2 separate regions of the Homo sapiens genome follow, and region 1 is linked to region 2. The links come from fine-mapping of genetic effects on gene expression. Tissue or cell type: whole blood. Region 2 holds a variant in brackets; the other region holds the start of a gene. All regions are shown on one strand. Distances are from middle to middle.

Region 1 (5,000 bases), 30 kb before region 2:
ACCCCATCTCTACAAAAAATAAATAAAAATGAAATACCCCAAGAGTCTGAAAAGAGGGTTATGTGTTTCCTCAGGCTGCTGTAGCAAAGAACCACAGAGTGGGTGGCTTAAAAGAGCAGAAATTTATTATCTCTCAGTTCTGGAGGCCAGAAGTCTGAAATCCAAGCATGGCTAAGGTTGCCCTTGCCTATCTTCTGGCGGCTGTGGCCCTTAGCTTATGGCTGCCCTCCAGACTCTGCCTCTACAGCACAGAGCATTCCCTCCCTCCCTCCCTTCCTTCCTTCATTCCTTACTTCCTTCCTTCCTTCCCCTCCCTCCCTTCCCTTTCTTCCTCTCTCCCTTTCTCTCTCTCTTTTCTTTTTTCTTCCTTTCTTTCTTTTTTTCTTTCTTTGTCTTTCTTTCTCTTTGTTTCTTTTTCTTTCCTTCCTTCCTTCTTTCTTTTTTCAGAGACAGGGTCTCGCTCTGTCACCCAGGCTGGAGTACAGTGGGGTGATTATAGCTCACTGCAGCCTGGAACTCCTGGGCTTGAGCAATCCTCCTGCCTCAGCCTCCCGAAGCACTGGGATTACAGGTGCAAGCCATCATGCCTAGCCTATCATTTTCTTCTGTGTCTATGCGTGTCCCCCTTTTCTGTCTCTGATAAGAACACTCTTCGTTGGATTTGGACTTCACCCTAAACTAGAATGATCTCATCTCAAGATCCTTATCTTAATTACACTTGAAAAGACCCTTATTTCAAATAAGGTCACACTCGTAGGTTTTGGCTGAAGATACATAATTTAACCCACGAGGGAGGATATATTTCTAGGCATTTAATCTGGGTGGGATCCCTGAGGCAGGAGGACCTCAGAGGTCACCTGAAAAAGCATATCTCTAAGCATATTCCCTGAAAAACTAGTTCCAAGTGATTTTTTTTCTAGAGGATTTTTTTAAGGGTGGGGGGAGCATTCTGTGTTCAGATAAATTTGGAAAATGCTGCGTATACCTCCCACACTAGAAGATTCACAGTTCACCTTAGTGTATTAAAGGGCTGAGAATTCACGGTAAAGAAGCATTATGTATTTATGGAAAGCATCATTTCCCTAGTTTATTTCACCATAAAACCCCATTTTCTTTCTCATAATCTCCGTAGCATTTTCAGATCATATCAGCCTGTGGAAATTCAAGAGGAATGTTGATGTGAGCCAACCTTGTCTTACTTTAGCTGAGAAGATCAACATCCAGAAAAGGACAAATGACTTATCCAAGGTCACACTGCTGAGAGGGTCGGAAGTTGATTTAAAACTCAGCCTCCTCAAAATGATAGCGATGGAGACACATTAGTTGTTGATGGGGAGAGAGTGGGTATGGCTACACAGAGGTCTCACCAGAGAGATCTGTTTGGTGGGGGAGCAGTTCTGCATTTTACTTGAAGAGGTAGTAGTTACACAAATTTGCATGTGATAAAACAACACAGAATTAGGCACACACATTATACCCACGTCAGTTTCCTGGCTTTGATACTTTACATAAGATGTAACCCTTGGAGGGCCTGGCACGGTGGCTTACCCCTGTAATCCCAGCACTTTCGGAGGCTGAGGTGGGCAGATCACCTGAGGTCAGGAGTTTGAGACCAGCCTGGCCAACATAGTGAGACCCCGTCTCTACTAAACATACAAAAATTAGCCAGGAGTGGTGGCACGCACCTGTGCCAGCTACTCCAGAGGGTGAAGCAAGAGAATTGCTGAAACCCAGGAGGCGGAGTTTGCAGTGAGCTGAGATCACACCACTGCATTCTAGCCTCGGGGACAAGAATGAAACTCCATCTCAAAAAAAAAAAAAAAAAAAAGAGATGTAACCCTGTAACCCTTGGAGGTCAGGTGCCTCCTGCCTGTAATCCCAGTGCTTTCGGAGGCTGAAGCAGGAGGGTTGCTTGAGCCCAGGAGTTCAAGACAAGTCTGCGCAATATAGTGAAACCCCGTCTCTATAAAAAATTAGCCAGGCATGGTGGCACATACCTGTAGTCCCAGCTCAGGGGCTGGGACTATGGGACTACTTGGGAGGCTGAGGTGGGAGGATCGCTGAAGCTCAGGAGTTTGAGGTTGCAGTGAACTATGGTCATGCCACTGCACAGCAGCCTGGGCAACAGAGCAAGGACCTGTCTGGAAAAAAAAATTGAGAGAAATTTGGCAAAGAAAATTGGGACCACTTTGTACTATCTTTGCAACTTCCTGTGAATCTATAATAATTTCAAAATAAAAAGTATGAAAAACTGGTTTCCTGTCTCCAGGTTCCAGAGCTTTTAACACTGTCAAAGGTCATTAGATCAAATTTAGGTTTATGCTCTGCTATTCATATGCTTCTAGTACCCAATAAAAAGCACTGTTTATGGGCTGGGTGCAGTGGCTCATGCCTGTAATCCCAGCGCTTTGGGAGGTTGAGGCAGGCAGATTACCTAAGGCCAGGATTTTGAGACCGGCCTGGCCAACATGGTGAAACCCCATCTGTACTAAAAATAGAAAAATTAGCTAGGCATGGTGGCACACACCTGTAGCCCCAGCTACTTGGGAGGCTGAGGCAGAAGGATCACTTGAGCCTGGGAGGTCGAGACTGCAGTGAGCTGCGATCACTTTGGAGGCTCAAGAAGACAATTTTGTGTTTTGACACAGCAATAGCAGAACTTTCATCAACAATTAGATTCAGAACAGGTTATACTGCACACATTTTTGCCACATGCCCAGCCATCTGGCTTCTCTTGGAATTGTCTCCATCTGCCCCCACCCCCACCCTCATTCACATAATGACTGTGGAACTGGGGGCAGCCATTTGATCCTACTTCTCTGGCTACGGTTGACTGGTTCAGGGGTGGGCACTGATCCAATCTGGGCCAATCAGAGCCCTTCCCTGAGAATTTTCTATTTGGAGCTCAGGGAATCTGTCCGATCCTAGATTGCTCAGGTAGTAAAAGTGTGAGATGGAGATGGGGCCACTGGTGGCCATGTTAGCCCCTTATGTGAAAAAACCTGGTTGAGTGAGAAGGAATGAAGCCAACATTCAAAGGAAAGTAAAGACAGGAGACAGAGAGAAAGTCCTGTTAACCTTGCGATGCCTGTTTCTGTTTGTTTCTGAAATCCAGCTGCCTTACTATGGCCTAGCTACTCCTCCCTTCCTTGGCAACCAAAAAGCTAACACATCTCTCATTTGGGCTGGGGGGTGTTGTTTTGTTTTGTTTTGTCTTAGTTTTCATTGTTTCAGACAAGGTCTTTCTCTGTCACCCAGGCTGGAGTGCAGTGGTGTGAACACAGCTCACTGCAGCCTCGACCTCCCAGGCTCAAGTGAACCTCCTGCCTCAGCCTCAGCCTCCCCAGTAGCTGGGATGACAGACACATGCCATCAAGCCTGGCTAATTTTTAAAATTTTTTGTAGAGATGAGGTCTCACTACGTTGCTGACTGGCCTAGAACTCCTGGGCTCAAGCAATCCTCCTTCCTCACCTTCCCAAAGTGCTGGGATTACAGGTGTGAGCCACAGCACCCAGTGACATCTCTTATTTTGCTCAAGCTAGTTTGAGTTGGTTTATCATCACTTGCAATCCAAAGAGCCTAAAGTAGCCTATAGACCAACTCCCTCATTTTACAGATGAAGAAATGGATCCTGAGAAAGTCCATGACATCCCTAAGGCTGAGGTCAGTGAGTAGCTAGGCTAGAATTAAATTGCAAACATCTTGATGGGAACACTCATTTGTTTTTGCACAGCCGCTCCTCCTGCCACGCCATGTGACATTTCCAAAGCCTGCCAAGATTTCCAAAGTCCTCAGTTGGAGGGAAATGCACCTAAACCTCCTCTTATCCACAAAACAAAGGGGAAAGGATAAAAATAGAAGACCCCTGAAATATAACTGGAGATCTGGGACCTGGGGGATTGGCGCAGGAAGCTGAGAATGGAGAGAACAAAGTCAGAGTTGTTAGAGGTGAAAACTGAAAGGACCCTACACTCTATTTGTGGCTGAGCTCTCACACAAGGAAGACAGGATCAAAGGAGGTCTTCATCTCTTTGCAAAACTCTCATGCAGGATTCAGATTAAACTGAGCCAACAAATATCCTCCTAACCGAGGCTAAAAAGAGATCAGAGACCCACTCCAGTGTTGGCCACCTGTGAATCCCCAAAACTCCCAGCCTTCCGAGGTCACCCTTACCTTTAATATAAAGTTGGGTAGCTCAAGGGAGGATCCAGATGCTTTTCCTGCGTGGTTGCACAGCTCCTTGCCAGTCCCCTTGGCTCCTACAGCTGACATTCTCCTCCTATCCCCCCACCCCAGCCTAGACACAGCATTCTTCCTGCTCCACCCACCCCTGACAAGCACTGCTAATCAAGCTGCTGTGTGGATCTGACTTTTCCTGAAGTTTCAGGCTAACAGAGAGGGGCGTGATGGGCCCTGGCAGGTTTTCAGGAGTTTTAGTTCCTCCTGGGCCACGTAATATATGAGGCTAACAGAGTGAGCCTGAATCAGACTGGTCCTTGCTAAACAGATGACTCAACATCCTGGAAATGTGTAGCAAGATGGTGTCTGGAGCCAGCCAAGAACTTGTCCCCAGAACCACAGTGTTTGTTAGTTCCCAGTGGCTTGCTAGAGGCAGGTTTTACAACCCCATGAGGCACTTACGCTGGGGTTTCAGGAAGAAGTGGGTGAGGGGCAAGTGGCTTGGTGAGCCTCGCTTTGAACTACCTAAGACTTGCCAGATCTTCATCCAGGACAGGCAGAAGCTTTTGGCCCCCACTCCCAGGAACCCTCCTGGGGGAGCCCAGAGAGCCACAATCGCTGACATCATCCAGCCCGTTGCCCTCTAGTGTCCCCTGAACCTCCACAGCCAAATGGTATTTCATTAAGGATCCTGGGGCAGAGGGCAGCTTCTAGGCAGCTTCAAACCCCATCCTCTGCAGAACCTGCCGAGAAGGTAACATCTCAAAACACATACGTGGTGTGTGCTGCTTATCCCTGACCCCGCTCGGGTATCCTCAC
Region 2 (5,431 bases):
GACTCAAGTGATCTGCCCGCCTCGGCCTCCCAAAGTGCTGGGATTACAGGCGTGAGCCATAACGCCTGGCCCCTATTCTTACTTGTAACAAAACAGGCATTTTTGGTTATTTTAATCTACTATTGCCTTTTATACTGGATTTCTGTCACTCGCAATCAAAAGAATCCTGACTGTTCTACAAGCAATATGGGGGGGGGAAATCATTTTTGTGTTTAATTTCAGTATCCATGTGCTTTGCCATAAATGTTTTTTAAGAATTTTAAACTATTTTGGCCAGGTGCAGTGGTTCACGCCTGTAATCCCAGCACTTTGGGAGGCCGAGGCAGGTGGATCATGAGGTCAGGAGATTGAGACCATCCTGGCTAACATGGTGAAACCCCGTCTCTACTAAAAATACAAAAAAACAGCTGGGTGTGGTGGCAGGCGCCTGTAGTCCCAGCTGCTAGGGAGGCTGAGGCAGGAGAACGGCGTGAACCTGGGAGGTGGAGCTTGCAGTGAGCTGAGATCACGCCACTGCACTCCAGCCTGGGTGACATAGCAAGACTCCGTCTCAAAAAAAAAAAGAATTTTAAACTATTTTAAGGGTTTTTTTTTTAAATTTTGGTGGTTAATTCTTAATTATGACATGCATTTTAAAGATACGCTTTCAGTGGTTTATCATATTTTCTCTTTTCCACATAAAACTTTTGAATTATTTATTGGCAAATGTGACTTGTTTAAAGTGTTAATTTCATGCTTTTGCAGGTGTACATTTAGAAATGAGCACAGTGAGCCTGCAGAGACAGGCTCCTAAGACAGCCCTGCCAAGCTAAGCTGATGTTCTCTTCTGAGACCAGGGAATTTGTGGGTTCCACTCTTTCTGGCTTTGGGGAGACTGTCTGACTACAGAAATATTGGCCACCTAAAGAATTTAGGTCCTTGCCACTCGGACAAGCATGACCAGCCCCAGTTCCCACAAAGAAACATCTGTCTTGCTTCATGTCATGGAGTTGCTTGTATAGTTTAAGTTTCGAGTACTTGTCTGAGCAAGTCTGTCTTTTCATGGATGGCTGAAAATGCTTTATGAAGACGTACACTTCACAAGAGTTAATAGCAGAAAGCACTGTGTCAAAACCCAAGACATAAATGTAATTAAAATCACATTGTATTTCCTGTTGGTTGCTGAAGTAGACATTAAGAAAGTCTTATCTTTAATAGTACATTTAAAATTCCCTGTCATAGAAAATTATCTTTAAATGATAGCTCAGAAAAGAAATACAAAAAGCTCTCATGCCATTTATTATTAATGTGATTTATGTTAAGTCTGTCAGTGGAATGCTGAAAATGTGCCAATGAGTTAGCTCAAGAAATGATGCAAAATTAAATATTAATGAAGCACTCAAACAAGCACCAATTACACTGCAGTATAAGCTTGTAAATATTTCCATAAGTAATTTTCAGTCCGTATTCAGGTAGCACTATGGAGCAAGAAAAGAACCATCATTAATTTATGCAGAAACCTTTTTTACTAATAAATTTTCCAAATCACAAATTTAATTTTAGCTTTTGATTTTTAAAAAGGCAATAAACTGTTAAAGTTTGTACTTGAATTCATGGATACTCTTTTTTTTTTTTTTTTAAAGATGGGGTCTCACTATGTTGCCCAGGCTGGTCTTGAACTCCTGGGCTCAAGTAATCCTCCCACATTGGCCTCCCAAAGTGCTGAGATTACAAGCATGAGCCACTGTGTCTGGCCTTTTCTTTTCTTTTCTTTTTTCTGACACAGGGTCTCACTCTGTCACCCAGGCTGGAGTGCAGTAGTACAATCATGGCTCACTGAAGCTTTGATCTCCTGGGCTCAAGTGATCCTTCCACCTCAGTCTCCCGAGTAGCGGGGACTACAGGCGTGCACCATTATGTCCAGCTGATTTTTTTAAATTTGTAGTAGAGATGAGGTCTCACTATGTTGCCCAGGTTGGTCTTGAACTCAGCTCAAGCAATCCTCCCTTGTCAGCCTCCCAAAGTGTTGGGATAACAGGCCTGAGTCACCATGCCCAG[C/A]CCATGGAGAGTCTTTATGTTGCAAGTGATAGAAAGCCCAATTCACATGGTTTAAACAAGGAGAATTTGCCTGCATGCTTTAGAGAAAAGTGCAAATAAAATGCCGCTTCAGGCAAGATTTTATCCAGCAGCAGAAATCCCAACTCACGTGGCTTAAACAAAGAGAACTTGCCTACATGCTTACCTGAAATGTATACTTGAAATGTGGCTTCAGGCAGGATTTCATCCTGCAGCTCAAAGGATGTCACCAAGAACCTGGTGTCTTTATGCCCTTCCTCTCTGTCTTCTGCTGGGTCAACCCCTTCCTCAGGTCAGTGGCTCCTAGAGTGCACTACCTCTCTCTCTCCCCTTCAAAACCAGACCACTCATTCTCCAGCTGTAGGGAAGATTGGCTGCTGATGGCTCACAGCTCTCGCAGCTGAGCCTTCAGGCATTGTTTCATGTTCATAAATGCCCAGGCTTTATTTATTCCCATCCAAAGACTATCCTCCGCCTAGCCCAAGCTTTATGTGATCTGCCAATGATTGGTCAGTGCAGAAGTACAAAAGCGTAGTCCTCCTGCCTAGATCTGAGACAACTCTGAAGGGCCACCTCAGGTCCAAAGCTCCCTTTAGCATCAGTTGAGGCTGTGCTGCAACTGCAACCCAGTTCCACTTTTCCACTTCTCCCTCTGCTCAACCTGCTTCGTTTACTACCTTACAAGTATTGTTTCTGAGACCATGGCCCAGTCACTTCCAGCGTGTAAATATCCATCACAAATCTATTGGCAGGGAGGGACCCAGACATGAGGCAGCTGAGGCCAGGAGTAATTTTTAGGAAGCAGATTCTAAAATAGGTGTTTGGAGCTGGAAGGTGGAGCAATAATTGCCCCTGGCATTCTAGCGTGGTGTACTTGTTTAAACTTTCACTGGGGATGTGCAGGAATGATGGGAAACTGATGGAAGGGAGGCACTGGTGGAAGCAAATTCCCAGGCATTTGAGAGGTTTGAGTGAACTAGTAATATAAGGACTGTGAAATCAGATGGCTCTGGGGCTAGCAATGCTTAAAGGAAGACAATGAAAGTTTGAGAGTACTTAATCATCAGTTTGAGACAAAGTGTGAAAGTCTCTTGGCAGCATATAGAGACTCTGTAGCTGGAGGGCAGAAAAAGCTAAGGATCAGCCCGAAGCTTCATTATAAGGGTAATGCAGCTTCAGAGAGGTTGGATTCTCAATCAGAGCACGTCCGCTCTGTCAGGTCATACCCCAGTAGAGAAGGATCAGAACTCAGAGACTTGGGATGGCACATCTGGGTCAATGCACTAAAAAAATCTTGAATCTCCAGATTCCACTGAACCCACTGGGCCTGCAGAAGCGGCCCCCTGCCCACTGTTAAGGGCTAAAACTCCCCTCATGCTTGAAGATAGTGCAGGGCCTCTGCTTTGCAAGATGAAATGCACCTCCCTCCTGGCCACCAGACAAATAGCTATCAAGTCACAACAAAACCGGCCAGGGATGCGCCAGACCTGCTGCTGAGGAAGGAATGAGACTGTACCCTGGAGGAGCTGCAGGAACTTGCCAACATGTGCTGGCAGGATTCAGGAGAGTAGAGATGGGACTGGATTCTGAGGATGAGGATCAAAACATAGAGCTTGATAGGAAAGAATATTGAATAGGAGTGTGCTCCTGTGATGCAGGATTTTACCCCCTGGCAAGGACCCCAGGAGAAGGTGCTAGAATGGCTCTTGGAAGCCTAGAAACAGCACTGGCTCAAACTAAGTTAAGGAGAAAAGTTCAAACAGCATGGCAGATGGCAGAAGGGATCAAATGGATCAAAGGAGAGGGTTTGCTCAACCGGATCAGCCTGTGTCGGGCCTGCAAATTCCCCAGCTGACTATGTTCCCTGGGAGAGCCCATAAATCACTCTTTTACCAAAGCAGTAAAGAAGGTGCTGGTGGAGGAGGAGCAGCAGCATCGAGAAGTCTATCGTTGGCCATTCTCGGGGAGGCCGTGAGGGTGGGAGATGCTGTTACAGAGCGGGGTGGTGGGGGTGGGGGGAGCTGATAGTAATAGGGATAAGAGGAGCCCAAAATAATCAAGGCCAAGTGGCAGTGTTACAGGAGAGGGGTCCCGATCCAGACCGCAAGAGAGGGTTCTTGGATCTCACGCAAGAAAGAATTCAGGGTGAGTCTGTAGAGTAAAGTGAAAGCAAGTTTATTAAGAAAGTAGAGGAATAAAAGAATGGCTACTCCATAGACAGAGCAGCCCCGAGGGTGGCTGGTTGCCCATTCTTATGGTTATTTCTTGATGATATGCTAAACAGGTGGTGGATTATTCATGCCTCCCCTTTTTAGACCGTATAGGGTAACTTCCTGACATTGCCACGGCATTTGTAAACTGTCATGGCGCTGATGGTAGTGTAGCTGTGAGGACGACCAGAGGTCACTTTCATCACCATCTTGGTTTTGGTGGGATTTAGCCGGCTTCTTTACTGAAAACTGTTTTATCAGCAAGGTCTTTATGATCTATATCTTGTGCCAACCTCCTATCTCATCCTGTACTTAGAATGCCTAACTGTCTGGGAATGCAGCCCAGTGGGTCTCATTTTACCCGGCCCCTATTCAAGATGGAGTTGCTCTGGTTTCAACGCCTCTGATAGCAGCACTTATCTGTCAGAAGGTGGGCACGATTCTCACACTGAGCAGCAAGGTCAGGGAGGCAGCCAGAGGTCCTGCTGCAGAGAACTAAGTAAATGGTGTTTTTTTCCTTTCTTTTTTAAGATATATTTTTAATAGTAAAGATGGGGTTTCACCGTGTTGCCCAGACTGGTCTTGAACTCCTGCACTCAAGTGATCTGCCCGCCTTGGCCTCCCAAAGTGTTGGGATTACAAGTATGAGCTACCATGCCAAGCCGGAAATGGTTAATAGAACATAATATTCCTAGTGGTAAGATAGATGAGCAGCCAAAAACAGCTTATTTTATTTTATTTTTTTAATTTATTTTGAGACAGAGTTTTGCTCTTGTTGCCCAGGCTGGAGTGCAGTGGTGTGATCTCAGCTCACCACAACCTCCACCTCCAGGGTTCAAGCGATTCTCCTGCCTCAGCCTCCCAAGTAGCTGGGATTACAGGCATGCACCACCAAGCCCAGCTAATTTTGTATTTTTAGTAGAGATGGGGGCTTTTCCTTGTTGGTCGGGCTGGTCTCAAACTCCTGACCTAAGATGATCCGCCTGCCTCAGCCTCCCAAAGTGTTGGGATTACAGGCATGAACCACCGCGCCCGGCCCAAGAGCTTATTTTAAAACATCAACCACCCAACAAAAAGTCATGATTCCTTGTCCTGTTTCCAGCCTAAGTTAAGATCTAGAACGTCCTGAATGAAGAAAGACACTGCATCAGCTGGCATATGGACAG

The links. PIP is the estimated chance that this variant, and not a neighbour inherited with it, causes the effect. A credible set is the group of variants that fine-mapping cannot tell apart.
Region 1: it holds the start of TMEM92-AS1, and the variant in region 2 is the best candidate, but not a certain one, in a credible set for the expression of TMEM92-AS1 in whole blood (TOPMed, PIP 0.84).

What each region holds. Positions count from the first base shown.
Region 1 is chr17:50,285,743-50,290,742 of GRCh38, forward strand. TMEM92-AS1 (TMEM92 antisense RNA 1) reads right to left here and starts at 2,113. Exons shown (of 4, transcript NR_125805.1): 1 at 1,998-2,113.
Region 2 is chr17:50,315,178-50,320,608 of GRCh38, forward strand. No RefSeq gene overlaps it. Among named protein-coding and RNA genes, the nearest start is that of XYLT2, 28 kb to the right of the region's middle. RefSeq lists enhancers at 996-1,125, 2,846-3,425, 3,426-4,004. The variant C/A (reference allele first, on the strand shown) is at 2,038.